Linked DNA regions of Homo sapiens. The protein of the gene in region 1 purifies or fractionates together with the protein of each later gene. This does not show direct contact. Each region holds a gene or a part of one and is shown in the gene's direction. Other genes may lie near its edges.

The links.
Region 2: the proteins of OLR1 (region 1) and F5 purify together in Homo sapiens (affinity purification with mass spectrometry; 2 studies listed by BioGRID and IntAct, with this or other methods). This does not show direct contact.

The regions. Positions count from the first base shown.
Region 1 is NC_000012.12:10,152,850-10,169,193, reverse strand, and holds the end of OLR1 (oxidized low-density lipoprotein receptor 1), read left to right. Parts: intron 1-18; coding exon 19-120; intron 121-2,236; coding exon 2,237-2,482; intron 2,483-8,268; coding exon 8,269-8,408; intron 8,409-8,678; coding exon of another isoform or gene 8,679-8,731; coding exon 8,732-8,847; intron 8,848-9,172; coding exon 9,173-9,314; 3' UTR 9,315-10,893; downstream 10,894-16,344. UniProt on the Homo sapiens protein: Receptor that mediates the recognition, internalization and degradation of oxidatively modified low density lipoprotein (oxLDL) by vascular endothelial cells.
Region 2 is NC_000001.11:169,525,882-169,542,225, reverse strand, and holds part of F5 (coagulation factor V preproprotein), read left to right. Parts: coding exon 1-1,932; intron 1,933-5,545; coding exon 5,546-5,720; intron 5,721-11,203; coding exon 11,204-11,440; intron 11,441-12,407; coding exon 12,408-12,618; intron 12,619-14,131; coding exon 14,132-14,311; intron 14,312-16,208; coding exon 16,209-16,325; intron 16,326-16,344. UniProt on the Homo sapiens protein: Central regulator of hemostasis. It serves as a critical cofactor for the prothrombinase activity of factor Xa that results in the activation of prothrombin to thrombin.

The DNA.
Region 1 (16,344 bases):
TATCCTCTGTCACTCTAGGTCTTCAGTTTCTTTACTCTCCATGGTGGTGCCTGGCTGCTGCGACTCTAGGGGTCCTTTGCCTGGGATTAGTAGTGACCATTATGGTGCTGGGCATGCAATGTAAGTGCTAAAATACGGAACTGATGTTTATTGGGGCAGGGGTGTTGGAAATGAGGTTAATAAATATGGTTTATAAGTTTCTTTCATAACAACTACAAACAGCCTTGATATAGATTCATTTTAGGCAAAATGTTTTTAAGAGTGACCATGAAAATAAAGGGGTATATTGTTCATCTTCCAATGGATAGAGCCATGAAATAAAAATTACAATTGGTAGGCATTTTTTTGTTTGTTTGTTTTGTTTTGTTTTGTTTCTTTTGTTTTCATAACTTCATGGATAGGCCGGGTGCGGTGGCTCACACCTGTAATCCCAGCACTTTGGGAGGCCAAGGTGGGTGGACCACCTGAGGTCAGGAGTTCAAGACCAGCCTGGCCAACATGGTGAAACCCCATCTCTACTAAAAATACAAAAAGTAGCCGGGTGTGGTGGCACATGCTTGTAATCCCAGCTACTCAGGAGGCTGAGGTAGGAGAATAGCTTGAACCGGGGAGGTGGAATTTGCAGTGAGCTGAGACTGCACCATTGCACTCCAGCCTGGGCAACAGAGCGAGACTCCATTTCAAACAAAACAAACAAACAAAAAACCAACCTCATGGATAGAGCCTATTTAAATTCTAGAATGATGGAGAAGATAATAACTTAAAGTTACTAATATCCAAGATCATCTGAGAGGCCCAAAAGTAAAAGAAATTTTATTTAGCTTGCTGAGTTTTGATAGAGATAATTAAATACCATTTTAATGTTAAGAACCAGAAACACAATCTTAATAAATAAAACATTTAAAATAAAATATATTTCACATTTATAATAAGAGCATTTAGAAAAGAGAAGATATTGAGGGAAAAAAAGAAGTGAAAAGATGGCCCAGAGTGGCCAAGAAGGAAAGAAAATGGTGCCCAACGTTCACCTGAACTGCCTGTGAATTTAGGTTGTAGAACTGAGTTGTTTAGGCTACCCAGGATCCAGGTTATTATGGCCATTGAAGTGCTATTTGCTTCCTAACTGTTGTTCAAGCTCACAAACTATTTTATTTTAAATTTGTAAATACTTAGGGCCTTTCCTAGTGACAAGGAGAAGTGCCCTTGACTTAGTGGTGGTGACCAGAAAAATCTTTTGAGCCTTTGATCATCTTATAACAGGATCAAAGCTGCCTTCAAACCAAGCGGTCTGCTTTGTATTGCACCATCAAAATTCAGGAACTGAGACATTTGACCCTTAACATGTTATCGCCTGCTTGATTTCACAACCTTCACTTTATCTTCACCCTTCCTAAAATGTACCGTGGCCAAGGGGAAAAAAAAAAGAAAAGAAAAAATTCTTGGAGACTCTTGTGACACAGTGTGCGTGGCTGTCTCAAAAAAGGGGTGTATGTCACAGTTCTTAAAATTAGGAAGTCTGGAAGAGTAGACAGAATGGGAGGAGACACAGCAGAGGAATTGAGACATAAATAGAGTAAATCGCTAATGACATTTCCTACTAATAGTCACTGAGTCTGGTGGGTGTCTGTTTCAGGTTTTCCTTATTTTATTTATTCTAATGCTGTACTGGTTATCTTGTGATTACTTTTCATTTGTAACTCAATAAAAAAAAATCTTGGGTTTTTTTTGTTGTTGTTGTTGTTTTTTATTTTTTTTGAGACAGTCCCCCTCTGTCGCCAGGCTGGAGTGCAGTGGCACTGTGATTCCCCTGCCTCAGCCTCCTGAGTAGTTGGGACTACAGGCGCGTGCCACCACCCTCAGCTAATTTCTTTGGTATTTTTAGTAGAGATGGGGTTTCACCATGTTGGCCAGGATGGTCTCTATCTCTTGACCTCGTGATCTGCCTGCCTCGGCCTCCCAAAGTGCTGGGATTACAGACCTGAGCCACCGTGCCTGGCCAAAATCTTGGTAATTTTTAAAAAAATTACAAGTGTTTGCAATGTTCCTGACATTAAACAAAATACTGCAGGAATATTCAAGAACCTCCAAATCTGTAACTTCTGAGTAAATCTGGGTCATTTTTCAGCAGCTTATCTATTGTCAAAATAGATTTAATTCTGTTTTGATTTCCTCAAAAAGTCCCTGGAGGGATTTTTATTTGGATTAGAACTAGAGTCTTAATGCAACTGTGATTCAGTATCCCAGGTGTCTGACCTCCTAACACAAGAGCAAGCAAACCTAACTCACCAGAAAAAGAAACTGGAGGGACAGATCTCAGCCCGGCAACAAGCAGAAGAAGCTTCACAGGAGTCAGAAAACGAACTCAAGGAAATGATAGAAACCCTTGCTCGGAAGCTGAATGAGAAATCCAAAGAGCAAATGGAACTTCACCACCAGAATCTGAATCTCCAAGAAACACTGAAGAGAGTAGCAAATTGTTCAGGTATTGGGAGAAGGGTGGGTAAGGAGACATAGTGGAAGCTTTCTGTCCAATCATAACTATTTTTTGGAAACAATTCTGGGCTCAAAATTGGTCTATTGTTATGCATATCATTATTCATTCATAATGTTCTATACAAGAAGTTCTCAATTTCTTTTTCTTTTTCTTTCTTTTTCTTTTTTTTTTTTAGATGGAGTTTCGCTCTTTTGCCCAGGCTGGAGTGAAGTGGTGTGATCTCTGCTCACTGCAACCTCCACCCCCTGGGTTCAAGTGATTCTCTTGCCTCAGCCTCCCAAGTCGTTGGGACTACAGGCTCCCATCACCACGCCCAGCTAATTTTTGTATTTTCAGTAGAGACAGGGTTTCACCATGTTGGCTAGGCTGGTCGCGAACTCCTGACCTCAGGTGATCCACCCATCTTGGCCTCCCAAAGTGCTAGGATTACAGGCATGAGCCACCGCTCTCGGTCAATTTTTTATTTATTTTATTATTATTTTTTAATTTTAGACGGAGTCTTGCTCTGTCACCCAGGCTGGAAAGCAGTGGTGTGATCTCAGTTCAATAAGCTTCTGCTTCTTGGGTTCAAGCAGTTCTCCTGCCTCAGCCTCCCAAAGTGCTTGGGATTACAAACATGAGCCACCATGCCCAACTAATTTTTGTACTTTTAGTAGAGACAGGGTTTTGCCATATTGAACAGGCTGGTCTCAAACTCCTCACCTCAAGTCATCCGCCTGCCTCAGCCTCCCAAAGTGCTGGGATTACAGGTGTGAGCCACCGCACCCGGCAAGAAGTTCTAAATTTTTAATCAGAACCACCCTATGCTGTGTCAAATCCTTGAAAAATCTGATTTAATTAAGCATACCTTTTGGTGGATTTAAGTTTTCCTTCTTTATAAGAGCCTCTTCTTTTTAAAATTTTAGTTTTGAGATTTTTCTTTCTTTTTTTTTATTTTTTGAGACAGTCTCGCTGTGTCACACCCAGGCTGGAATGCAGTGGTGTGATCTCAGCTCACTGCAACCTCCACCTCCTGGGTTCAAGTGATTCTCTTGCCTCAGCCTCCCTAGTAGCAGTTTTGACATTTTTCTTGAAGAATTCTGCCACCCCCACCCCATTCCATAGATCCTTATCTCTTTCCATTCCAATGCATTTTAATCACTGTATTTCTTTTTCTAAGGGATCTTTTTGTCCTTGCAACTGTCTACCCCTAACTCTACATTAGCTCACTCTGTGGCATTATTTCTTAAAGTGTACTACATCAACTTATTTTATTTGATTTCAATTTTTGGAGATGGAGTCTCGCTCTGTCGCCCAGGCTGGAATGCAGTGGCCTGATCTCGGCTCACTGCCACCTCCGCCTCCAGGGTTCAAGCAATTCTCATGTCTCAGACTCCCAAGTAGCTGGGATTACAGGCACCCACCACCACGCCCGGCCAATTTTCTTTTTTTTTTTTTGAGAGGGAGTCTCGCTCTGTCCCCCAGGCTGGAGGGCAGTGGCACATTCTCGGCTCACTGCAACTTCCGCCTCCCGGGTTCGAGGGATTCTCCTGCCTCAGCCTCCCGAATAGTTGGGATTAGAGGCACCCGCCACCACACCTGGCTAATTTTTGTATTTTTAGTAGAGATGGTGTTTCACCAAGTTGGCCAGGCTGGTTTTGAACTCCTGACCTCGGGTGATCCGCCCGCCTCGGCCTCCCAAAGTGCTGGGATTACAGGTGTGAGCCACTGTGCCGGGCCCATCAATTTAAATAGAGCCAATGGAGGTAGACTGGCTTGCAAGCCTTACGCAGATACTTCAGATTAGACAAAAATATGAGGAGTCCAAGAAGTCTATTTATATAAGAAGAAATGAGTTAATTTTAGCCGTCTAAAGGGACTCAGAATCCAGAGGCAGGCAGAAATAGTAGCATCTATAAGAAGACTATGATGTGAACTCTGATATTGTTACAGAAGCTACTGTATTATTTGGTCTTTCTGCAGTATGTCATTACATCAGGTATATGGTTTTAGGCATAGGGAGAGTTAAAAGGTGTGAGAGAGAGTCATTCAGAGGTACTTTGTTTCCTTGGAGGTGCGTAAATTAGTGCCCTATTGTCAGGATTAGAGAAAAACTTCCTCTAATAAACAGAGATCTCTCTAGCTTCTTGCTTGCACAATTTACTTAATCTCAACCACATAATTTATTTGAATAAAGAGCATATAATAATAGTTCACAGATACCTAAGCTTTTCCTTGATAGGTGGAACACTGAGACCCGGATAAAGTGAAATGATAATAAAAAGTAATTTTGTGTAAGGTTTTGCAGTTTGTAAATCCCTTCACTATTTAGAGGTCATTTACATTTTCAAAATTAGCAGAAATTTTTGAACAAAATAATTTTTAGCAAGTGTCAAACATTTTTAATCTCTTTAAAGTTGGAGCTTGCAAGGAAATGAATATACCACCTTCAAGAAGGCTTAAAGGGAGAAAGTTTATCTATTAAGGATAGGAATGTTTATAAAAGCGGACATAACCACGTACTAACCAATGGTTTATATCACAGGCAAGGCCAGAAGAGAATTTTGTCTTTATCAGTTGTATGGGATTAAATCTACATCAGGACCATTCAGAACTATCTCCCAGAGATGCCCTGGATGAACAACTAATAAAAAACAATAAGTGATATGTCTGATGCTGGCAGATATACCAAGTAACATGTTCCATTCCTTGACAGTGTCAGATAAAGGCTAATTAGTAGAGATAGCAAATAAAGTTTTGCCTTTCATCAAAGAGCATTTTTTTTTTTTTGAGACGGAGTCTCGCTCTGTCACCCAGGCTAGAGTGCAGTGGTGCGATCTAGGCTCACTGCAACCTCCGCCTCCCGGAGTCAAGCAATTCTCCTGCCTCAGCCTCCTGAGTAGCTGGGATTACAGGCGCCTGCCACCACGCCCAGCTAATTTTTGTATTTTTAGTAGAGACGGGGTTTCACCATGTTGGTCAGGCTGGTCTCGAACCCCTGATCTCGTGATCCACCCACCTTGGCCTCCTAAAGTGCTAGGATTACAGGTGTGAGCCACCAGGCCCGGCCCACCAAAGAGCTTTGAGAAGTCTTTAAAAAGTAATACTAAAATACCACATACAGAAAAAAAAAAAAAGCCAAGTTTTTCCAGTTTGAGGCAAGTTTTATCTTTTTTACTAAAAAGTCTGTGGTCTTCAATGTATATATGAGGAGGGAGAGATGCTGAGAGGTTATTATATGTTTGCTTTAGGCCAACGAGCTAGTGAGATGCAGGGCCTTTGCAGGAATAGACTTCACATTTAGCAATGGAATTTGTGGTGATTCTCAAACTTTACTGTATGTAAATAGATTGTTAAAAGTGGCAGATTACAGATTTACCTCAAGATTCTGTATCAAAATGTCTCGAGAGCAGCACCGAGAAACACTTCCTCAAATGGTTTTAACTTAGAAGTTTGAAAGGTAGTATGTTATAGTGGTGAAACACCCAGACTCTAGAGTTACATTATCTAGGTCCAGATTCTTCTCTATTTGTCAAATGAAGAAAATGACTGGAACCTATCTCACAGAGATACTGTGAGGATTAAATGAGTTAATACCTGTACAGTACTTCCAACAGTTTCTGGCACATAGTGAGTGATATTTGTGTTTGTTAAATTATATAAAAAATAAACATAGTAAGTGATATTTGTATTGTTATATAATTTAACAAACACAAATATCACTTACTCTGTTTATTTTTGTGTACACACACACACACACACACAAAGAAATACAGTAAGTTTAAATACTACATTTTGTAATGTGTCCTTCTTACTTTGTCATAACTGGGAAAACTTGCCCAGACTGTCTTTTTAGTCCACAAAAAACTTATATACATCTAAATATATTTTTTGAGACAGAGTCTTCCTCTGTCATCCAGGTTAGAGTGCAGTGGCATGATCTCAGCTCACTGCAACCTCCACCTCCTAGGTTCAAGTGATCCTTCCACCTCAGTCTCCTAAGTAGCTGAGACTACAGGCGCACACCACCACACCCAGTGAATTTTTGTGTTTTTTGTAGAAATGGGGTTTCGCCATGTTGCACAGGCTGGTCTGGAACTCCTGGCCTCAAGCGATCCACCCACCTCAGCCTCCCAAAGTGGTGGGATTATAGGCATGAGCCACCACCCCCAGCCAAAAACGTACATATATTTATATTTACATAATATGATGGGGTTAGGCAAACTAAGAAGTAAGAAGCTTGCATTGACTGCTTTCAACTTGGTCTCTTTTTCTTTTCATAAGCATCAGTTTGGTGAAAAATCAACTTAGTGTTTTGTATGCTCTTTCTCATTCACTTTTTTCTGTTTTTCAGTCCCTCCTATTTTCTCCTCTCTGATAAAGCCTACTCTTATACATTTATTTAGTGGTTTTATGCCACAGTGAGAATGAAATTAAAATGCTGCCTTTCTCAAAGATTTTAATTTTTCACCTTTTGGTTGTAGTGTAGACCAGAGTACTTTGTTTCCCCTTAAGGAGATGGGAGAGATGATGATGATGATGGTGATGATAGTGATGATTTGAGGGTTCCTGAAAGCATCCATAAACATGTAGACATTGGTATATTTTGCCTATTGTCTAAGTCCTGTTTTTGGTTTGGTGGACTCCCTGTGAATTTTGCTACTGAAAATCTCCTTATTTTCTAAAATCTCGTTTAAATTGAGATCCTCGCTTTATATTAATATACTATTTTCCCTAGAACAACTCTGTACAAAAGAAATATAGTATGTGTTTTTTATATATATATATATATATATCATTAAAATTTCTAGTAACCACATAAAAATGAAAAAGAAGCAGATAAAATTAATTTTAGAAACACATTTTATTTAACCCAAGATATTTGAAATATTATTTCAATACTAATCAGTATAAAAATTTTTAATGGACTATTTTACATTCTTTTTCTTTTTCAAATTAAGTTTTCAAAATCTTTTGTGTGTTTTACACTTATAGTACATCTTAATGCAAACTAGCCGGGTGTGGTGGGTCATGCCTGTAACTCCAGCACTTTGGGAGGCTGAGGCAGGAGGATTGCTTGAGGCCAGGAGTTCAAGACCAGCCTGGACAACATAGCGAGACCCTGTTTCAATTAAAATAATTTGTTTTAAGAAATGCAAACTAGCTATATTTCTAGTACTCAAGAATCACATATGGCTACTGTATTAGACAACACATGTCTGAAAGCAAGACACATAGTATTTAAGCCTAGATTCATTATTCAAAGATATGAAATTTTAAAATGCATAGCATTACTTTTTAAAAATAGCAGAATGGCTATTAAATATCTGTTCTCCCAACCCTCACTTTCTTTATTTCCAACACAACTTTAAAAAATAGATCAGTTTCTAAAATTACATGCTAGCTTAACTTGCTTTTCATCAGGGGAAGTGAAAATGCTAAATGAGAAGTACATTTAGGTTGCTAAAATCAGTATGCTTTCTTTCTTTCTTTTTTTTCCCAAAAAATGAAGAAATAAGGACTCTGAGGCTATTTAGGTATTTGCAGAACCTGGGTAAAATTTTACTTAAGAAGTAGTGTGGGCAGGGCGCGGTGTCTCACGACTATAGTCCCACTACTTTGGGAGGCTTGGCCTACATGGTGAAACCCCATCTCTACTAAAAATACAAAAACAAAAACAAAAACAAAAATAAATAGTATGCACGTGAGAGAACTAAGGGGATCATTGATTTAAGAACTGCAGTACTGCTTTTACACAAACATAACTGACTGATGAGATATACTATCCTTCCCAGCTCCTTGTCCGCAAGACTGGATCTGGCATGGAGAAAACTGTTACCTATTTTCCTCGGGCTCATTTAACTGGGAAAAGAGCCAAGAGAAGTGCTTGTCTTTGGATGCCAAGTTGCTGAAAATTAATAGCACAGCTGATCTGGTGAGTGTTCATGGATATTTGTTGGGGTGGAGTATTGGTTGATAGGGAAATTAATCTGGTTTAAACTGTCACTGGAGGAATTCTTGTTTGAGAGCCAAAATGTCTGTTTTTTTAGCTTAGTCTGATCACCAATTTTGTGTATGACCTTGGACGGACAGGCTCTGTAGTATCTCTAGCCTTCAGTAAGTGTTTCCGTAAAACAGTCAAGGGGATGTCAAAGATACCTTTTGGTTCTTTAGTTTTGTGGATCCAACACTAACTGACTTTCAGATTCTAAAACCACCATGTGGATTCCACAAACTCAGAAACATTACTCCCCACAGGACTTCATCCAGCAAGCAATTTCCTATTCCAGTTTTCCATTCTGGATGGGGCTGTCTCGGAGGAACCCCAGCTACCCATGGCTCTGGGAGGACGGTTCTCCTTTGATGCCCCACTTGTAAGTTTCCCATTCTTTTTGATGCCTCTCTCGTCAGTTTCCTATTCTTTGCTGAACCTGCTAGTGAGGTCACTGCCTGCATCCCACCAATGTCCTCTTCTTGCCAGAGAGAAGCTTGGGGGAATTTCTCAAAGTCTCCTTCCTTACCTCTTTCACAAAAAGATTTACTCATTAACCATTCAGACATTTTCTTGAGTTTTCCTTCCCACATTTATTACTGATTGGAGGCTTTAAGACAAAAAGTTTCAAAAGCTAAGTTTCTGAAACAAGGTGGCAGTAAACCTAAGTTTTTTTGTTGGTTTGTTTTGTTTTTTCCTACCTGCAGATTTAGAGTCCGAGGCGCTGTCTCCCAGACATACCCTTCAGGTACCTGTGCATATATACAACGAGGAGCTGTTTATGCGGAAAACTGCATTTTAGCTGCCTTCAGTATATGTCAGAAGAAGGCAAACCTAAGAGCACAGTGAATTTGAAGGCTCTGGAAGAAAAGAAAAAAGTCTTTGAGTTTTATTCTGGAATTTAAGCTATTCTTTGTCACTTGGGTGCCAAACATGAGAGCCCAGAAAACTGTCATTTAGCTGGCTGCAGAACTCCTTTGCAGAAACTGGGGTTCCAGGAGCCTGGCACCTTTATGTCAACATTTTTGATTCTAGCTACCTGTATTATTTCACCTAGCTTGTCCCAAGCTTCCCTGCCAGCCTGAAGTCCATTTTCCCCTTTTTATTTTAAAATTTGACTCCTCTTCAAGCTTGAAAACCCTCTGAACTCAGTCTTCTTTACCTCATTATCACCTTCCCCTCACACTCCTAAAATTGCATGAAAGACAGAACATGGAGAACTTGCTCAAGTGCAGGCAGAGAGCAAAAAGGGGAAATATGTCTGGGAAAAAGTGCACGTGAAGAAACAAAGAAGGACAGAGGCCATTCCGAAATCAAGAAACTCATGTTCTTAACTTTAAAAAAGGTATCAATCCTTGGTTTTTAAACTGTGGTCCATCTCCAGACTCTACCACTTACGGACAGACAGACAGACAGACACACACACACACACACACACACATTTTGGGACAAGTGGGGAGCCCAAGAAAGTAATTAGTAAGTGAGTGGTCTTTTCTGTAAGCTAATCCACAACCTGTTACCACTTCCTGAATCAGTTATTATTTCTTCATTTTTTTTTCTACCAGAGGACAGATTAATAGATTTAACCCTTCACAACAGTTCTTGTTAGAATCATGGGATGTGTGGCCCAGAGGTAAGAATAGAATTTCTTTCCCTAAAGAACATACCTTTTGTAGATGAACTCTTCTCAACTCTGTTTTGCTATGCTATAATTCCGAAACATACAAGACAAAAAAAATGAAGACACTCAATCTAGAACAAACTAAGCCAGGTATGCAAATATCGCTGAATAGAAACAGATGGAATTAGAAATATATCTTCTATTTTTAGGCTTCTATTTCCTTTCCACCCACTCTTCACAGGCTATTCTACTTTAAAGGAAGCCTTTTTATTTTGCTGCACACAATCTAGCAGGAATCTTTTTTTTTTTTTAAGAGCTGTGTCATCCTTATGTAGGCAAGAGATGTTTGCTTTTGTTAAAAGCTTTATTGAGATATAATTAACATAAAATAAACTGAACATATTTAAAGTGTACTATTTGATAAGTTTTCACACCTTGTGGAGAACATGCATACTACAATTAAGAGAGTGAACATATCCATCATCCCTCAAAGTGTCACAATGCTCCTCCTGATGACTCCTCCCCAGAAAACCACCAATCGGCTTTCATTTTGCATTTTGTAGTTTTATGTGAATGGAATCATATAGTATGTCTTTTTTTTTTGTCTGGCTTCTTTCACTTTGCATAATTATTTTGAGATTCATATGTCTCCATCTTGATGCTCGTATGAATTCATTCTTTTAAATGTTGAATATTCCCTTGTATGGATATACCACAATTCATTTACCCATTTACTTGTTGATGACATTTGGGTTGTTTTAGTTTTGGGATATTACAAATAAAGCTGCTGTGAACATTTGTGTACAAGTCTGTATGAACATAGGATTTCTTTTCTCTTGGTTAAATACTTAGGAGTATAACGTCTGGATCACACAGTAGGTGTATGATTAACTATTTAGGAAACTGACAAACTCTTTTCCAAAGTTGTACCATTTTTCATTCCTACCAGCAGTGTATGAGTGCTCCAGTTCCATCTCATCCATGCCAGAATTTCATATGGTTCGTCTTATAGTTTTAATGATTCTAGTAGATATCGAATGGTATATCCTCATAGTTTTAATCTGTGTATCCTACAAATTTCTGTTTGTTGGTTTGTTTTTGAGACAGAGTTTCGCTCTTGTTGCTCAGGCTGGAGTTCAGTGGCACAATCTCAGCTCACTGCAACCTCCGCCTCCTGGGTTCAAGCAATTCTCCTGCCTCAGCCTCCCAAGTAGCTGGGATTACCGGCGCCCGCTACCACTTCCAGCTAATTTTTGTATTTTTAGCAGAGACGGGGTTTCACCATGTCGGCCAGACTGTTCTCAGACTCCTGACCTCAGGTGATCCACCCACCTCAGCTTCTGAAAGTGCTGGGATTACAGGCGTGAGCCACCGCCCCAGGCAAATTTTTATAAGCTTATTTACCATCTGTATTAGGTAACTTTGATAAAGTAACTGTATAAATCTTTTGAGAATTTTTACTTGGTTTATTTTTCTTACTGTTGAGTTTGAGAACTTTATATATTTGGGATAAAAACCTTTTATCAGATATGCATCTTGAAATGTTTTTCTTGTCTTGTCTTTTTTTTTTTTTTTTTGAGAGGGAGTCTCACTCTGTTGCCCAGGCTGGAGTAGTGCAATCCCAGCTTACTGCAACTTCCGCCTCCCAGGTTCAAGTGATTCTCCTGCCTCAGCCTCCCAAGTAGCTGGGATTACAGGTGCCCACCACCATGCCTGGCTAAGTTTTTGTATTTTTAGTAGAGATGGGGTTTCACCATGTTGGCCAGGCTGGTTTTGAACTCCTGACCTCAAGTGATCTGCCTGCCTTGGCCTCCCGAAGTACTAGGATTACAGGTGTGAGCCACCGCCCAGCCTGTCTTTTCATTCTTTGAACAATATACTCATAAAGCAGAAGTTTTTTATTTTAATGAAGTCCATTTTTATTATTCTGCTGTGGTTTGTAAGAACTCATTGACTAACTCAAGGTCACAAAAATTTTCTCCTTTATTTTTTTCTAGACATTTTATAGCTTCAGGTTTTATACTGAGGTCTATGATTTATTTGGGATTAATTCGACAAATGTAAATTTGTCGAAAAGACTATTTTTCTTTACTAAATTGCTTTTGCACCTTTATCACCAATCAGTTGTCTGTATATTCATGGGATTATTTCTAAACTCTCTATTTTATTCCACTGATTGTTGTATTTTTGTATTTGCGTATTTATACACCACCACCACATTATTTTGAATACTGTAGTTTTATAATAAATCTTAAAATCATGCAGTGACAGTCCTTCAAATTTATTTTTCTTTTGCAAAGTTACATTGGCTGAGCTATGTCACTATATTTTCCATATTGATTTTTGAATTGGCTCACTAATTTCTACAAAAACTCTTTTGGAATTCTGATTGTGATTACATTGAATCTACAAATCGATTTGGGCAGAATTGAAACCTTAAAAATATTGATTTTTCTGACTCTTGAATAAAGTATGTCTCTGCATTTATTTAGGTATTTTAAAATTTCTCTGAGCAATGTTTTGCAGTTTTCTCTTACAGATATTTTTACATATTTTGTTAGCTTACCATATATACTTCATAGTTTCGACGCTACTGTACATGGGAATTATCATTGATAATTTTAATTTCCAACTGTTTATTGCTAGTATGGAGAAATATAATAGACTTTTAAATATTCACCTTATATTCTGAAACCTTGATAAACTTATTTGTTTCTTCTAGTAACTTTTTTTGTAGATGTCATCAGATTTTCTACACAAATAATCATTCTGTGTGCCAGCGGAAGCACTTCTATCTTTTCCTTTCCAATGCTTTTATTCTTTTCCTTGCCTGAACCTCCCGTTCAATGAGAAATAAAAGTAGTGAGAACAATATCCTTATTTTGAAATTGATCTTGAGAAGAGATCATTCAGTGTTGCACCACTAAGTATGGTGTAAACTGTAGATGTTTCATAGACGTCCTTAATCAGTTTTAGGAAGTTCCCTTTTGTTCCTTGCATTCTTAGAGGACTGATCAGGAATAGGTGTTAATTTTGTCTAATATTTTTCTACATCTATTGAGATGATTATATATACATTTTTATTTTAAAAATATCTAGTATTTTCTTTGTTTTTTTTTAGGTTAAAAATTTCTAGTCTTTTAACATGAATTACACTCATTAATTATATAAGGTTAAAACAATTTAGGATTGCATTATATTAATGGATTAGATCTGTTATATGTATTATATTATGGGTTATTTCTGTTAAAATTTGGCTTAGAATGTTTGCAACTATATTTATGGGTTTTTTGTTTCTGTTCATTTTGTTCTGGTTTTTTAGAGGTAGAGTCTTACTCTGTTGCCCAGGCTGGACTGCAGTGGCACGACCACAGGTCACTGAAGCTTTGACCTCCCAGGCTGAAGTGATCCTCCTGCCTCAGCCTCCAAAGTAGCTGGGACAACGGTGACCACAGGCATGCACCATCATCCCCAGCTAATTATTTTAATTTGAGAGAAAGAGACAGGCTCTTCTTATGTTGCCCTGGCTGGCCTTGAAGTCCCAGGTTCAAGTGATCCTCCTGCCTCGGCCTCTCAAAGTGTTGGGATTACAGGTGTGACCCACCATGCCTGGCCAGTACTTTTTTTTTTTTTTTTGAGGTGGAGTTTTGCTCTGTCGCCCAGGCTGGAGTGCAGTGGCGCGATCTTGGCTCACTGCAACCTCTGTCTCCCGGGTTCAAGCGATTCTCCTGCCTTGGCCTCCTGAGTAGCTGGGATTACAGGCACCCCCCACCATACTCAGCAAATTTTTGCATTTTTAGTAGAGATAGGGTTCCACCATGTTGGCCAGGGTGGTCTCGAACTCCTGACCTCAGGTGATCTGCCCGCCTAGGCCCCCAAAGTGCTGGGATTACAGGTGTGAGCCACCGTGCTTGGCCATGGCCAGTATTTTTAAACATAGTTTTCTTTTCTCTTTATGACTTTGCCTTATTTGAATATCAGATAAATATTTCTCAATGTCAATTTTTCTGGAAGATTTGGTTTAGAATTAGTACTATTTCTTCATTAAATGTTTGATACAATTTACCCTTGAAGTCATCTGGGCATAGGGTTTTCTTTGTAGTAAGGTTTTCAACTACAGATTCAGTTTCTTTTTTTTCTTTTTTTTGAGACGGAGACTTGCTTTGTCGCCCAGGCTGCAGTGCAGTGGCACCATCTCGGCTCACTGCGACCTCCGCCTCCCGGGTTCAAGCGATTTTCCTGCCTCAGCCCCCAAGTAGCTGGGATTACAGGCGCGAGCCACCATGTCCCTCTAATTTTTGTATTTTAGTAGGGGCGGGGTTTCACCATGCTGGCCAGGCTGGTCTCGAACTCCTGACCTTGTGATCCGCCCGCCTCAGCCTCCCAAAGTGCTGGGATTACAGGCGTGAGCCACCGCACCCGGCCAGATTCAGTTTTTTTTAGATGTTGAGCTGTTCAAAGGATTCCTTCTTCAATGAGCTTTGGTGGTTACTTTCAAGGAATTTATGAGCTTCATCTAAGTTGTTTAATTTATTGGCATACCATTTTTAAAAATTATTTGAATATCTGTAGAATCTTTAGCATTGCCACTTCCTTCCTGACAGTGTTAATTGTATCTTTTTTTTTTAAAACTAATCGGCTTAGCTAGAGATTTATCAATTTCATTTTTCTTCTCAAAAAAGCTATTTGGTCAACAGAGACAAGATGGCCAAATAGACGCAGACAGGAAGCACCACTCCCGCTGACAGAAAGGGAGACCGGGAACCCTTTCAGGTTCTGGAACACCAGTGCCAGTTCCTGGCCCTGAACAACCCTTGGCAAGGCAGCCCACTCTTGCTGTGGACCTCTAGGATTCCAGCCACAAGAGATCCTACACTCCCCATAAACATTCGAACTGGCATGGGGATATGCCCTACAAGCAGGCAGAGGCAGAACTCCAGCCTGCATAGAGCCCGGTTTTTGTTGTTGTTGTTGTTTGTTTGTTTGTTTTGCGTTGGGGGCAGTTCCAGTGGAACATGGCCATGCGCACCCATCCCCCAAGGCTCTCCGTCCTCTTCCGAATAACTCTAACCCCACTGACTGCCGCGCAAAGAGAACAGCAGGGTCGACTTTCCCTTCGGAGTGGGGCACTTCTGTTCCGCAGGACCTCCTGCCCTCCAGCCCCTCTCAAGTCCTCTGCCTGGCCGCTCTAGGAGCCTGTCAACGGTGCAGACTCCACTGCCCATCCTGGGTGCTTTGCAGGCCGACATGCCTGACTGAGTTCTTTCCCAGCCGCTTGGGAGCAGTTCCGAGGCCCCGTCGCAGCCCGTGCCGGAACCTGGGGTGCAGGATGGCGGATGTGCTGGCTGGGGCCAAAGCCCTGGGCTGCGGCGTGCAGCGCCGCAGTGCGGGACCCAGATTCATGGCCTGCGCTCCAGCGGGCAAGGAGTCCCGAGTCTCAGAAAACCGAGGGAGTGATATGCCCAGATTAGGGGCAGGCGCGGAAGGTCTGCCAGCCATGGGTGTCCGCCTGAGGGAGCTGCCCAGCCCGGACAGCCTAGCAAAGGAAATGCGGGAATGACGATAGTGACTGGAGAGGACTCTCCGAAGGCTTGAGAGCGGAGCTGGTGGGGTCAGCTCCCCGCGCTGGGCCACACCACAGGACGTTGTTGCGAGCTCGCTGAAACGTAAAAACCCGCAGCGCTGGCCGTTACTCTTATGCGCCATCTGCTGGATGATAGCCCAAATTACACCAAAAATATTCTGCCAATATATTAAATATTGGTCTGTGAAACTCAGGGCAAGAATCCAGCCACAAAGATCTTGTACAGAGCCTTGGCCCTCTGACAGCACTCATAAATGAAGCAAATGACTATATTCAACTTACACCACAGTTAAAGGAATACCAGCCCTCTCAGAAGAGAAAGAATTTTGCCAATTAAAAAGTAAGAGTGTCCCCTTACCTCCAAATGAGCACACTAGCTCCCCAGCAATGGCTCTTAACCAGAATGAAATGACAGACACAGAAATGAGAACCTAGATGGAAAGAAAGCTCACTGAGACTCAGGAGGCTGTTGAAACGCAATCCAAGGAATCCAGTAAAATGATCCAAGAGCTGAAAGATAAAAGACTTTTATTTATTTATTTATTTATTTATTTTTGAGATGGAGTCTTGCTCTGTCACCCAGGCTGGAGTACAGTGGCACGATCTCAGCTCACTGCGACCTACACCTACCAGGTTAAAGCGATTCTCCTGCTTCAGCCTCCCAAGTAGCTAGG
Region 2 (16,344 bases), on another chromosome or scaffold:
CTATGAAATAATCCAAGATACTGATGAAGACACAGCTGTTAACAATTGGCTGATCAGCCCCCAGAATGCCTCACGTGCTTGGGGAGAAAGCACCCCTCTTGCCAACAAGCCTGGAAAGCAGAGTGGCCACCCAAAGTTTCCTAGAGTTAGACATAAATCTCTACAAGTAAGACAGGATGGAGGAAAGAGTAGACTGAAGAAAAGCCAGTTTCTCATTAAGACACGAAAAAAGAAAAAAGAGAAGCACACACACCATGCTCCTTTATCTCCGAGGACCTTTCACCCTCTAAGAAGTGAAGCCTACAACACATTTTCAGAAAGAAGACTTAAGCATTCGTTGGTGCTTCATAAATCCAATGAAACATCTCTTCCCACAGACCTCAATCAGACATTGCCCTCTATGGATTTTGGCTGGATAGCCTCACTTCCTGACCATAATCAGAATTCCTCAAATGACACTGGTCAGGCAAGCTGTCCTCCAGGTCTTTATCAGACAGTGCCCCCAGAGGAACACTATCAAACATTCCCCATTCAAGACCCTGATCAAATGCACTCTACTTCAGACCCCAGTCACAGATCCTCTTCTCCAGAGCTCAGTGAAATGCTTGAGTATGACCGAAGTCACAAGTCCTTCCCCACAGATATAAGTCAAATGTCCCCTTCCTCAGAACATGAAGTCTGGCAGACAGTCATCTCTCCAGACCTCAGCCAGGTGACCCTCTCTCCAGAACTCAGCCAGACAAACCTCTCTCCAGACCTCAGCCACACGACTCTCTCTCCAGAACTCATTCAGAGAAACCTTTCCCCAGCCCTCGGTCAGATGCCCATTTCTCCAGACCTCAGCCATACAACCCTTTCTCCAGACCTCAGCCATACAACCCTTTCTTTAGACCTCAGCCAGACAAACCTCTCTCCAGAACTCAGTCAGACAAACCTTTCTCCAGCCCTCGGTCAGATGCCCCTTTCTCCAGACCTCAGCCATACAACCCTTTCTCTAGACTTCAGCCAGACAAACCTCTCTCCAGAACTCAGCCATATGACTCTCTCTCCAGAACTCAGTCAGACAAACCTTTCCCCAGCCCTCGGTCAGATGCCCATTTCTCCAGACCTCAGCCATACAACCCTTTCTCTAGACTTCAGCCAGACAAACCTCTCTCCAGAACTCAGTCAAACAAACCTTTCCCCAGCCCTCGGTCAGATGCCCCTTTCTCCAGACCCCAGCCATACAACCCTTTCTCTAGACCTCAGCCAGACAAACCTCTCTCCAGAACTCAGTCAGACAAACCTTTCCCCAGACCTCAGTGAGATGCCCCTCTTTGCAGATCTCAGTCAAATTCCCCTTACCCCAGACCTCGACCAGATGACACTTTCTCCAGACCTTGGTGAGACAGATCTTTCCCCAAACTTTGGTCAGATGTCCCTTTCCCCAGACCTCAGCCAGGTGACTCTCTCTCCAGACATCAGTGACACCACCCTTCTCCCGGATCTCAGCCAGATATCACCTCCTCCAGACCTTGATCAGATATTCTACCCTTCTGAATCTAGTCAGTCATTGCTTCTTCAAGAATTTAATGAGTCTTTTCCTTATCCAGACCTTGGTCAGATGCCATCTCCTTCATCTCCTACTCTCAATGATACTTTTCTATCAAAGGAATTTAATCCACTGGTTATAGTGGGCCTCAGTAAAGATGGTACAGATTACATTGAGATCATTCCAAAGGAAGAGGTCCAGAGCAGTGAAGATGACTATGCTGAAATTGATTATGTGCCCTATGATGACCCCTACAAAACTGATGTTAGGACAAACATCAACTCCTCCAGAGATCCTGACAACATTGCAGCATGGTACCTCCGCAGCAACAATGGAAACAGAAGAAATTATTACATTGCTGCTGAAGAAATATCCTGGGATTATTCAGAATTTGTACAAAGGTTTGGCCAGTTTTCTCCTTTTTTATTCTCATTTTTCCATTACTGCTGAAAAAAGTAGCTACTACAATTCAGGGGGATAATTGTGGGCAAATTATACTAAGAACAGTGTGGTTCCCCTATTGCAAGTTGGCCTGTTCTTTTTCCTTTGTCAATTCCAAGATTGCTTCTTTACCTTAGATGACCCCTGGACAATATAAGAACAATCACTGTGAGAACTCTATAATATTCTGTAATTAAGCATTTTTCTGTGTCCTCTCCTCTTACTACCCATGTTTCTACTGACTCTTATTGCTCCAGGCAGAGCCCAACCTATCCATAGCTATATGCTAATCAATATGATTTAATTGAAGTTAGCCTCAAATCCAAACTCAAATATGATGTAGAAATCTCCTTTTTGCATTTACTTGTTTAGATCAGAATTTCTAAGAGATCCAAATCCCTTTTTTAAAAGAATATTTACAATTCAGTTTTGCTTAGGGGTAGAAAGCCATGTTGAACTGGGCTCTTTGTTCTGGGATGAAGATACAGAAAGAGAAGAGAGAGGAGGAAAGGAGCAAGGCTTAGTCAACTACAAATTCTCAGGGATATAGCATGATGACTGTGCATCAGCTGTCTAGATATGCCCACAGCTTTTACTAAAGCTGTTACACTAATCACTTAAAAAACCAAAGTGTAATTACAGTAGGCAAACACAATGTATGGTGTGACTTATGCATATGAGTTCATTAATCTGATGCCTGACATCTCCACATTAGAACTCTGTTTAAAACACCTTTTCCTATGACTTCCTATTTAAATGTTGCACTCAATACCACATGAGAACAACTAGCTACCTGAGTATTTCTAAGCAAGGCCCCGAGGGAGTGAGATGCAGGGCCTGTCCAGAGTGAATAGGGATGGAACCACCTTCAAAATCTTGTATTCCATTCAAGGCTCACAACCCACTTTTATGGCATTCGGAGTTGCTTTACCCACTCCCTTGTGTTCTGTGAGTTTGCATGTTATGCTCAGAGTCTGGAAAGATGGGATTAGTAGGGGAGGTAGACCAGAAGAAAGGCAGAAGGAGATTCTCTGTTGATGACTCACAGTATATAGCAAATATTATGGGTTTGATGGGTGAGTGTTTGGCTTGTTTCCACAGGCTTGGGAAATGTGAGAGTCAGTGGGAGAATTCGACATGCTTCAGTCCTAGACTGAGCCAATGAACTAGATGGAAATAATGTGCTTTATTTATTTATTTATAATTTGTAATTAAACTTTTTATTTTGGAACAAAAATAAAATAGATTCACATACAGTCAAGAGAAATAATACGGAGAGATCCTTTGGGTATCCTGAGTATTCTTTACCCAGTTTCTCCCAGGGGTAACATTTTGCAAATCTATAATACTATATCACAACCAGCACACTGATGTTGATACTGTCAAGACACAGAATGTTCACCATCACCATAAAAATCCCTCTCATTACCCCTTTATAGTCACATCTGCCTTCCTCCCACCATAGCCCTTCCTTATTCCCTGGCAACCAGTAGTCTGATCTCCATTTCTATAATTTTGTCATTTCAAGAATATTACATAAATGGAATCAGGCAACATGTAACCTTTGGGGACTGGTATTTTTTCACTCAGTATAATTCTCTGGAGATTCATCTGGTTATTGCATGTATTCCATTATATGGGTGTACCCCAGTTTTTTTGTTGTTGTTGTTTTATACACATTTATGGTGTAAACATGATGTTTTAATATATTTATAAATTGTGAATTGGCTAAATCAAGCTAATTAACCTATGCATTACCTCACATACTTTTTTGTGGTTAGAACACTTAAAATGTACTCAGCAATGTTAAAAATTCAGTGTGTTGTTATTAACTACAGTCACCATCTTATACAACAGATCTTCTAAATTTATTTCTTCTAACTGAATTTTATCTTTTGACCATTTTCTCAATGCTCCACCTCTGTATCCCTTTGTTAACCACTGTTCTACCTTCTGCTTCTATGAGCTCAATGTTTTTAGTTTCCACATTATAAGTGAGATCCTGCAGTACTTGTCTTTCTGTGCCTGGCTTATTTTATGTAACATAACGACCTCCTGGTTCAGTCATGTTGTCACAAATGGCATTTCTTCGTTTTCTTTTTTTTAAATGCTAAATAGTATTTCATTGTTTATGTAGATCACATTTAAGAAATCCATTCATTTGTTTATAGACATTTGGGTTGCTTCCCTATCTTGGCTAATGTGGCTAATGCTGCAGTGAACGTGGGACAGCAGATATCTCTTCAACATACTGATTTCATTTTCTTTGGGTATATACCCAAAAGTGGGATTGATGGATCATGTGGTAATTCTATTTTTAATTTTTAAAGGAACCTCCCATACTGTTTTCCATAATGGCTGTACTAATTTACACTCTCACCAAGAGTATACAAGAGTTCCCTTTTCTTCACATCCATGCCAACATTTATCTCTTGTCATTTTTATAATAGCCATCCTAACGGTGTGAGGTGAGCCCTCATTGTGATTTTAAATTGCATTTCTCTGATTATTAGTAATGTTGAGCATCTTTTCATATATTTGTTGGTCATTTGTATGTCTTCTTTTACGAAATGTCTATTCAAGTCTTTTGCTCATTTTTTAATCAGGCTATTTGGGTTTTTTGCTGAATTGAGTTCCTTATATTTTTAATATTAATATTCTTATCAGATATCTGGTTTTCAAGAATATTCTCCCATTCCAAAGGTTGTCTCTTCACTCTGTTATTTCCTTTGCTGTGCATAAACTTTTGAGTTTGATGGCAATCCCATTTGTCTATTTCTGCTTTTGTTGCCTGTACTTTCGAGGTCAAATCCAAAAAATCTTTGTCCACACCAATGTCAAGAAGCTTAAGAATAATGGACATTAGCAAAAAACAAATGTGAGAAGAGTGGCTACTTTTAGGGTACAAAACATTCACCCATCCAGTGACTTTCATAAGTGTGACCTTCTAATTAATCTGACCATTGTCACCTGATAGCCCCAAGCTCTGGCACTGTCCCATTACATGGCTTTGTCTGCCTTTGATCTTAAAATTTGGTGTGTTAACATACGATTATATTTATACATTCATTTATATGTTTGACAAAAATTTATTAAGTTCCTGCTGTGTGTCAGATAATGTGCTTACCACTGGAGAGAGTACTATGAGCAAACTAGGCACAATGGCTGACCTCATGGCACTTATACCCAGTGAGAGACAGATATTAATAGATAATCTCACAAATAAATTATATATAATCTACAATATATATTCTAGAGATATTATAAGAATACTACAGGAATTTACTATATATACTATAATAATACTATAGAAATATGAGAAATTGATATAGAGACTTGACCTAGTCTAAAAGGTCATAGGAAGACTTACCTATAAAATAATATTTGAGTTAGGAATTGAAAGATATTTACTGGCTTTTGTTTTTATCCACTTATATATTTACTCATTTATCCACCAAGTATTTATTAAAGACCTTCTCTATGCTAGATGCTATATTTAGAAAGAGACAATTTCCTAAATTCTGGGAACAGTCTTTAATTTCTTCTTTTACACAAATAGTATTATTATTTCAGGGAAACAGATATTGAAGACTCTGATGATATTCCAGAAGATACCACATATAAGAAAGTAGTTTTTCGAAAGTACCTCGACAGCACTTTTACCAAACGTGATCCTCGAGGGGAGTATGAAGAGCATCTCGGAATTCTTGGTCCTATTATCAGAGCTGAAGTGGATGATGTTATCCAAGTAAGTCTTTTGAGCACTGCTAAGATCTTCGGAGGAATTTCCACAAGCACCAGAGGGTTGTAAAGGTGCAGGTGGCAAGAGAGCTATAGGTGATTTGTTTGTTTTCCAGGATTAATGAATAATTACATTTCTTTTCAAAGACTCCTTGCCAAGCAATTTGGCAATCTTCGAACTAAAAAAAAAAAAGATCTCATTTTTTAAATGCTGAAAACTATATAATCTGTGGAAAATCTTTCTGTAATTTCTATCTAAAGCTAACCTATCTAAAGTTAACACAGAAAATTAATATATTCAAGAGCAATTGAATTGGGTTTCATAGCAGTGGTGGTGGTGGTGGCAGTAGCAGTGCTAGTAGTAATAGTAATTTAGAAATATCTTCAGGTGTTTTCCTAAAAATTAAATAAAATGAAGTTAAATAAAATGAGTAAGGAAAGTAAAGATGTCTCCATGCCCTCCAAAAGTGAGCAAGTTTCTTCAGTGTCTTCCTAGTTCTGGTAATTTCTTTCAAAATCTTGTGTCCAGACCCACGATTATAACTTGCTTTTATAACAAAGTTTACTTCCGCCATTTTTGCTAACCGCTCACATTCAAAAACCCAGAAAGAACCCTGATTCTAAAGTAAGCTATTCTAGATTTTAAAATATAATCTACTATACCTGTGTAAGCATTCACTACATTTTCAGTGACCATTTGCTCTTTTTAAAAACGTAAACAAGTACATAGGGATATAAGAATCTTAATTATTCTAAATTTTCCATGAAGCTATGGGAGGCAATATTCTCTTTTATGATTAGGGGATCCTTTTTCAAGATGAACGATAATTTAACACAATATTTAAAAAACTTATTCTAAGTAACTCAGGAATCAAAAACCAGACACTGTATGTTCTCACTTACAAATGGGAGATAAACTGCGGGTATGCGAAGGCAGACAGATTGGTATAATGGACATTGGAGACTCAAAAGGGAACGGGGGATGGATGAAAAGCTACCTATTGGGTACAGGGTACACTACTCAGGTGACAGGTACACTAAAATCCTAGACTTCACCACTATACAATTCATCCATGTAACCAAAAACCACTTGCATTCCTAAAGCAACTGAAGTTTTTTAAAAAATTTAAAAATCAAAATTAATGCACGAAAGCCACAATAAACAAAACCTCACAATTGTGAATAAAGACAGGATAAGTAACAATGTTGCATTGAGACATACTGGAGCCTTAGGCAAAAGGAAAAAAATCAAATACTGAATCTTTGTTTTAGCCCTGGATTTCACTAGATAAAAATGACTTCATTTGTGTATTTTTAAAATAATTTTAACTTTTATTTTAGATTCAGGGGGCATATGTGCAGTTTTGTTATCTGGGTATATTATGTGATGCTGTTGTTTAGGGTATGATTGATCCCATCATCCAAGTAGCGTGCATAGTACCCAATAGTTTTTCATCCCTTGCTCATCTCCTTCCTTCCCCCTTCTAGAAGTCCCCAGTGTTTATTGCCATCTTTATGTTCATGAGTACCCAATGTTTAGCTCCCACTTATAAGTGAGAACATGTGGTATTTGGCTTTCTGTTTCTGCATTAATTCACTTAGCATAATAGCCTCCAGCTGGCATCCATGTTGTTGCAAAGGACGTGATTTCAGTCTTTGTTATGGCTGCGTAGTATTCCATGGTGCATATGTACCATATTTTCTTTATGTAGTCCACCACTGATGGGCACCTAGATTGATTCCATGTCTTTGCTACTGTGAATAATGCTGTGATGAACATCCTAGTACATGTGTCTTTTCAGTAGAACAATGTATTTTCTGTCTTTCTTTCTTTTTTTTTTTTTTGAGATGGAGTCTCACTCTGTCGCCCAGGCTGGAGTACAGAGGTATGATCTCAACTCACTGCAACCTCTGCCTCCCAGGTTCAAGCAATTCTCCTGCCTCAGCCTCCCGAGTAGCTGGGATTACAGGCACCCACCACCATGCCCAGCTAATTTTTGTATTTTTAGTAGAGACAGGGTTTTACCATGTTGGCCAGGCTGGTCTCAAACTCCTGACCTCGGGCAATCTGCCTGCCTCAGCTTCCCAAAGTGCTGGGATTACAGGCATGAGCCATTGCGCCCGGCTGAACAATTTATTTTCTTTTTTGGCTATATACCCAGTAATAGAATTGCTAGGTCAAATTGTAGCAGGACAAGCCACAGACAAAAACCCCTCAGACACCAAGTTAAAGAAGGAAGGGCTTTATTCAGCCGGGAGCTTTGGCAAGACTCATGTCTCCAACAACCGAGCTCCCCGAGTGAGCAATTCCTGTCCCTTTTAAGGGCTCACAACTCTAAGAGGGTCCACGTGAGTGGGTCGTGATTGATTGAGCAAGGAGGGGGTACGTGACTGGGGGCTGCATGCACCAGTAATTAGAACAGAACAGAACAGGACAGGGATTTTCACAGTGCTTTTCTATACAATGTCTGTAATCTATAGATAACATAACCGATTAGGTCACGGGTCGATCTTTAACTACCAGGTCCAGGGTGTGGCGCCGGGCTGTCTGCTTGTGGATTTCATTTCTGCCTTTTAGTTTTTACTTCTTCTTTCTTTGGAGGCAGAAATTGGGCATAAGACAATATGAGGGGTGGTCTCCTCCCTTAAAATAGTAGTTCTGTTTCAAATTCTTTGAGAAACCCCCAAACTTCTTTCCACAGTGGCTAATTTACATTCTAAGCAGCAGTGTATAAGCATTCCCTTTTCTTCACAGCCTCACCAGCATCTATTTTTTGACTTTGTACTAATAGCCATTCTGACTGGTGTGAGATGGTATTTCACTGTGGTATTGATTTGCATTTCTCTGATGATTAGTGATGTTGAGCATTTTTTTCACATTTGTTGGCTATTTGTATGTCTTCTTTTGATAAGTATCTGTTCATGTCTTTTGCCCACTTTTTAATGGGGTTATTTGTATTTCGCTTGTTCAATTGTTTAACTATCTTATAGTTTCTGGATATTAGACCTTTGTCAGATACATACTTTGTGAATATTTTTTCTATTCTGTGTCTGTTCACTCTGTAGATAGCTTCTTTTGCTGAGCAGAAGCTCTTTAGTTTAATTTGTCAATTTTTGCTTTTGTTGAAATGCTTTTGAGGAATTAGTCATAAATTCTTTCCCAAGGCTGATATCCAGAATGGTGTTTCCTAGGTTTTTCTTCTAGGATTCTTATAGTTTGAGGTCTGACATTTAAATCTTTAATCCATTTTGAGTTAATTTTTGTATATGATGAATCCAGTTTCATTGGATTCATTGGGGTTCAGTTTCATTCTTCCACATATGGGTAGCCGGCTATTCCAGCACCATTTATTAAATATGAGTCCTTTTCCCCTTGTTTTTTGTTGTTGTTGTTGCTGTTGTTGTTGACTTTGTCAAAGTTCAGGTGGTTGTAAGTGTGTGGCTTTATTTCTGGGTTCTTTATTCTGTTTCATTGGCCTATGTGTCTGTTTTTGTATCAGTACCATGCTATTTTGGTTATTGTAACTTTATAGTATAGTTTCAAGTCAGGTACTGTGATACCTCCAGATTTGTTCTTTTTGCTTAGGATTGCTTTGGCTATTCAGGCTCTTTTTTGATTCCATATGAATTTTAGAATAGCTTTGTCTAATCCTGAGGAAAATGATTCCAGTAGTTGTTAAAAAATAGTGTTGAATCTGTAGATTGCTTTGGGCACAATGGCTATTTTAACAATACTGATTCTTCCAATACATAAGCATAGAATGTTTTTCCATTTGTTTGTGTCATCTATGATTTCTTTCATCAGTGTTTTGTAATTCTTCTTATAGAGATCTTTCACCTCTTTGGTTAGATGTTTTCCTAGGTATTTTGTATGTGTGTGTGGCTATGTTTAATGGGATTTCGTTCTTGATTTCGCTCTCAGTTTGAACATTACTGATGTATAGAAATGCTATTTTGTACATTTGTACATTTTATTTTGTATAATTGATTTTGTACATTAATCTTGCATCCTGAAACTTTACTGAAGTCATTTATCAGTTCCTGGAGCCTTTTCATGGAGTCTTTAGGGTTTTCTAGGTACAGAATCATATTGCCAATGAAGAGAGATACTTTAACTTCTTTTCTTCTTTGGTTGCCTTTTATTTCTTTCTCTTGCTTGATTGCTGTGACTAGAATTTCCAGTACTATGTTGAATAAGAGTGATGAGATTGGGCATCCATGTCTTGTTCCAGTTCTCACGGGGAAGGCTTTCAGCTTTTGCTCATTCAGTATGATGTTGGCTGTAGGTTTGTCATAGATGGCTCCTATTAGTTTGAAGTATGTTCCTTCAATGCCTAGTTTGTTGAGGGTTTTTATCATGAAGGGATGTTAGGTTTTATCAAAAGCTTTTTCCACATTTATTGAGATGATGATACTGTTTTTGTTTTTAATGCGGTTTATGTGGTGAATCACATTTATTGATTTGCATATGTGGAGCCACTTTGCATCCTAGGAATGAAGCCTATGTGATTGTGATGAATTAATTTTTAATTTGCTGCTGGATTTGGTTTGCCAATATTTTGTTGAAGATTTTTGTGTCTATGTACATCAGAGATATTGGCCGGTAGTTTTCATTATTCATTGTGTCTTTGCCAGGTTTTGTTATTAGGGTGATGCTGGCTTTGTAGAATAAAATAAGGAACAGACAATTAGGGAGTCTTTAATCACTAGAAGTTATAGAAGGGCTGGGAGGAGCTTCATGGGTCTGACTGCTGGGGTGTGAAGACTTCTCATATGGCATTTAAGTCCTTTACCATCTGGCCCCAACCTGCTCCTTTTCTAGCCTCATTTCTCACCAGGTTCCACCTGTCCCTGTGCATTTCACAGCCCAGTTCCACCGAGATCCTTGCTATTCCCCAAACTCTTCCTTTACTCCCCTGCTCACAGGCATCCTTCTGCCCTTCTGAGAGTCTGAAATGTCTTTCTAGCTCCTGTTCATTCTATGATGGCCAATTCCATTTCCTCTAAGAAACTTACCTTAATTCTTCCAACCACTCCTAAATATTCAACCAAATTGTTCCTCCAGGGCATTGTCATCTGAACCCACTTAGACTTTGTATATAGCACCTGTTGTCTCCAGATTTGTAGTGTGGATGCCCATGTGCATGTCTGTTTCAGCAGGAGCTTAAAAGCTTCTTATGAACAAGAATCAAGCTTCTTTCATCTTCACATCTCCACTACCTATCACTCTCATTTCATTAGTAGATAATGTCAGTACTTTAGCCTTGAGCCTAAGAACAAATATCTTTTGGTATTTCTGGAGAAAACTACTTGGGCCATATCTCACAGGATGGTTATGAAAATTAAATGAAATAATATACATAAGTTATTTTGTACCTTATATCTTAGCTCCGATTTTATAACCAGCCATTTTGACTTATAATGCTGACATTTTTGTGGTTTAGATTTTTGTTAAGCTTAAGTACATTTGTGGATCATTCCTTTTCCTAGGTTCGTTTTAAAAATTTAGCATCCAGACCGTATTCTCTACATGCCCATGGACTTTCCTATGAAAAATCATCAGAGGGAAAGACTTATGAAGATGACTCTCCTGAATGGTTTAAGGAAGATAATGCTGTTCAGCCAAATAGCAGTTATACCTACGTATGGCATGCCACTGAGCGATCAGGGCCAGAAAGTCCTGGCTCTGCCTGTCGGGCTTGGGCCTACTACTCAGCTGTGAACCCAGTAGGTACTTTCATTGAAAGTTTTTCTCATTCCCCTAACCTCGTAATCTGAAGTCCACCAAATGGAAGAGTCGGGGTTATTTCTTGTCAAATGTCTGTCTTGCTTTTCATGAGGAATGCATAAGGGTGTGGTTAACAGTCTGCATTTATCATAACCAGGGACTCTCCATGCAGCTCTTCAGATGACAGAGAGAGAAACATTTATTCAGTGGAGAGGAGGAAAGATTACTTGAATGATTGGCCATGAATTAGAATGCCTACATTTACAGAAGATGGCATTTATTTGAAATTTTCTTGAACAAGTATTAGCTATGTTCTGCTCTTTCTTTATGAAAAGAACTGCAAAGTCAAGACTCCTTTATCTGACATTCTGCAATGTATATATACTTCAAAACAATATGTCATACACAGTATATGCATACAATTTTATCTGTCAATTAAAAAGAGAAACAACTCCTCCATTTCAGGCATAGTGGAAAGAGCACAGACTCAGATTTAAATTTTTACCCTGTCAATGCATAATCCTAGGAAATTCCTTGACCTCTCTTAGCCTGGTATCAGAAGTTAAAAATGAGATAACAGTACATAGTGCATGGTAAGCACTTGGTAAATATTTGTTCAATGAATGAATTTATATTTACCATATAAGATAGTTGTCAGGATTAAATGGGAGATTGCAGGCAAATCATTTAATATAGTAATAGATTCTCAATAAATAGTATCCCTTATATTATCAATTTATTATTATCATCATTGTTACTGGGATAAAGATCAATCAGAGGAAGGAGGATTATGAATACAACAGAATTAGGTGATAAATATCCAGGCTTATTATGCCATTCATTTATAATCTTCATCTTCAAATTCAGAGCCTATCAGAAAGTTTCCTTTTCTATATGATGAGTGATTATCAGAAGAGCAAGGAAATTCCTGAGAAAGAGGCAATACAATTTACTCTGTTTTTCCAGGAAAAAGATATTCACTCAGGCTTGATAGGTCCCCTCCTAATCTGCCAAAAAGGAATACTACATAAGGACAGCAACATGCCTATGGACATGAGAGAATTTGTCTTACTATTTATGACCTTTGATGAAAAGAAGAGCTGGTACTATGAAAAGAAGTCCCGAAGTTCTTGGAGACTCACATCCTCAGAAATGAAAAAATCCCATGAGTTTCACGGTATTTTCCTCAGACTTTGATCTAATCTCCTAATTAAATCACACTGGGTCACAGTGATTTCTGCCCTTAGATATTCACAAGATTAGACATGAGATGCTTCTGAGACACCCAGAGCTACAACTAAAACCGGTTCCTTAACATTCCAGAGGGCTGATGTAATCTGGCAGGTGACACTGTGGGTGAGGCAAAAAGAGAAAGTCTGAAAGATAGCACAGAGAAGCTGCTGCAAAACAAACCAACAGAAAACCACAACAACAAAAAGCCAGTGTGCTTCAGCTGGTAACATACATTGAAAAGGAATTAACATTGTTCTGCAATTTAAAGTTAATAAGCTTGTTTCTGGATCTCTAAAGGCACAAGTGTTTATATAAAAGAAATGATCACCTGTGTGTCTTTTCTAAAATAAGAATGACGCTAACAGTTTTAGCTCTCAGCAGCTACCAGGTGGCACCCAAAGCATATGAGAACAAAATGAGATAAGAAACTAGGTACCCAGGTAATAGGAGAATAGTGGCAAGAGAGCATTTGGGTGGTCACACTGGGAAAAGTGTGCCTATTTGGAAATTCACAAGGAAAATTTGCCCTGTAAGCTAGTAACTGAAACAGAAACTGAGAAGAGAAAGGTACGAGCTTGTGTTATGAATATGTAGATAGGTGTTCTCACGCCTGATATAATTTGAAGGATGCCCAAATGATCTCAACCCGTCCCTCTCCAAAAATTCACCTGCCTGGTTTCTGAAATTTCACAGCAGTTCCTCTAACTTAAGAAGGAGGAAACAAAGCACTTCCTTCACTTTGGTTTCAGTTAAACGTTTGGTAACACTAAACTTTATCTTTACAGTTTTGTGTTACATTTTTAAGGTGATCAAGTTTCTCAGGAACTTTTTAAAAAATCCGCGTATTTTACTGTGGGGAGAGTAGATAAAGCCTGAGAACCCTAGTTATCTAATCTGAGAAGTGGGCAGAGGAGTTGTCATACCAATAAGAGAATAAACATGACTTGCTATGGTTGCTGGATACACCAACGATAAACTCCTAATTTTATAAACTCCTAGACTTCCTAATTTGCCTGAAACTTTCTCTGAATTTAGAAGGCCTTAAGGTGACATGCTGCATATCTCCTTGCTGACTCTAATCCCTGGAGTTTACTTTGTCTGCCCATATTTGTATTTATCTTTTGTAGTTAAGGAAAATTAAGACTGTTAATGGAAAGTATACACGGGTAAAGCACGGAACTGTAAAAGCTGAGGAAAAGAGTGATAAACTGCTTGGAAAGGGAGTTCCCCCTGCCTTCTGCTGTAGGCTGGTGTGAATGATATGAGAAGGACTAGTGGTTCTGCTTTAGCCTCTCACTAATGTGACATACAAGAGGGCCCTTTCCATGGCTAGGTAGGCCTGGGAATGCAGAATCATGAGGAACATGGGTGTTGAGTGGGTTGCCCCATATTTCCTTACCACTCGCCCTCTCTGTGTCAACAGATTTTTAATTGATTTCAACTCTTTGTCCTTTCAGCCATTAATGGGATGATCTACAGCTTGCCTGGCCTGAAAATGTATGAGCAAGAGTGGGTGAGGTTACACCTGCTGAACATAGGCGGCTCCCAAGACATTCACGTGGTTCACTTTCACGGCCAGACCTTGCTGGAAAATGGCAATAAACAGCACCAGTTAGGGGTCTGGCCCCTTCTGCCTGGTAAAGATTGGGTAATGGGAAGAGGTCCCTGCTAAGAAATACAGGGAAAAGGCAATCTGTAACTCCTTCTCATTTCTTCCTTGTGCATATACTTCCTAAGGGGTCAGAACACAGGGTTCTGGCATAGAGCCTAGGCAAACCCATAGACCCAAAGTATATACGGAGTACAAAAATGTCACCTAATTTATGAACTATTTGCAGCACCACACAGGCTAAATGTGTGACCCAACTCAGTTGCAACATAACATGCAGTTTCTCCCAAGCCACTGTGTGTCATACAGATGAGGTCTTAAGCAGATGAAAAAATGAATCCCACAGGGCTCAGGCAGCTACAGCTATCTCTGCTGGGAGGGTTTCCAGATTCTTCAGTTCTGCTCCTCTTCTAGGCCCTATCACCCTAATATCTTTGGGCAAGTGACTCCAGGAATCACATTCTTAAACTGACTTATAGACTGTTTGAAGAGGAAAACATTTTTAAAAAATAATAATAAAAGTTAAAGAATAACAAAGGTATTTAGAACTTTTCATGTGCAAAATAAAGATAAATGTAGATTTAAACAGTCTACAATTATACAGAAGGGATGTTTCTGTGCCAATGAGTTGTTTGTAAGTGTATCTACTTGTGCAGCAGTATAAAAACCTAGGAAGTCAGTTAAAATGCAGATGTGAAGGCAGAGGGATTTTGTTCTCAGAGACTTTAAAGTAGATTTTGGGCAGAATTCCAAGGAGTCTGTATTTTTAACAAGCAGCCTTCCTTCTATTTTGCCTTCTATTAAAAGTAATGGCAAAAACCGCAATTATAGTTTGCACCAACCTAACACATGCTGCCTGAGGAGTTAGTGAAGGCAGCCCCTCGACAGCACTTTGGGTGACGTTGTGTGAATCTGCCTCAGATGCAGGCACAGAAGTCCAAATGGACTGGTTTGATTAAGAGCAGGGAAAAAAAGAGGGTTCTTATTGGTTTTTCACATGCCAGTAACTCACTAATACATCTAGAGAGTATTAATTGTATTATATTAATATCATATTAATTAATTAATATAATAATTAATAGATAATTTATTGTATTAAAATCAGAGACAGAAGAGATTCAGTCAAATTTACTCATCTTTTCATCAAGTATTAGAAGATCAGTCATCCTTCCTATCAGCCTGCAGACAGACTGAGAAGCTAGGATTGGCTGGTGTCTCTAAATCTGCAAACCTAAATACCTGCATTGGAGAGAGGAAAACTGGAGACATTTTTCAGTGTGTTTGAGGAAGATAATCATATCTATTCATTTTCACCCACAATCTGGGAAACAGTCATAAATTATAGTCAACAGAATTTAAATATTAACTGCCAGGGGGTAATGTTAAATACCAGAATGGATAGCCAGAGGTTTTAGAAATCTCATTCTTTCAGTGTTTTTTCTGAGCAATTTATGTAAATCTCTATTCAAATATGTAAGCTTTATGGAAAACTTGAAAACATGGAGGAAGAAGGTTTTATTTTTATTTTCTTATATAAAAAAGAGAAAAAAGCAAAAATGAAAAGAGGGAAAGGAAACATGTATGATATTTTTGAAGCCCAATGATGTCATTCGAGGTCACTTTGATAATTAGGACTGTGAAGCTGTATTGTATGTGAGTTAATTTGTAACATTATATTTAGATAAGTGAAAGTTTCTTCTAGTGAGGTGTGGTGGTGATTTAAAATTTTTTTTAGTTATCTCTGTGTATGTGTTGTTATTGTTTTGTTTTTATCTGTTATACTTTCAGTCCTACCTAAAGAAAAATGGTTAAATTCTATTTGAAAGCCTCTTGTGAAGCAGGAATTTTAGGATTCTTAGAGAACTATCAACCACAATATTTACTTGTTAATTTTTGCAAATGTAATGTTGTTCTTTTTATTTTAGGTTCATTTAAAACTCTTGAAATGAAGGCATCAAAACCTGGCTGGTGGCTCCTAAACACAGAGGTTGGAGAAAACCAGAGAGCAGGGATGCAAACGCCATTTCTTATCATGGACAGAGGTATCACAAGAGCCATGTG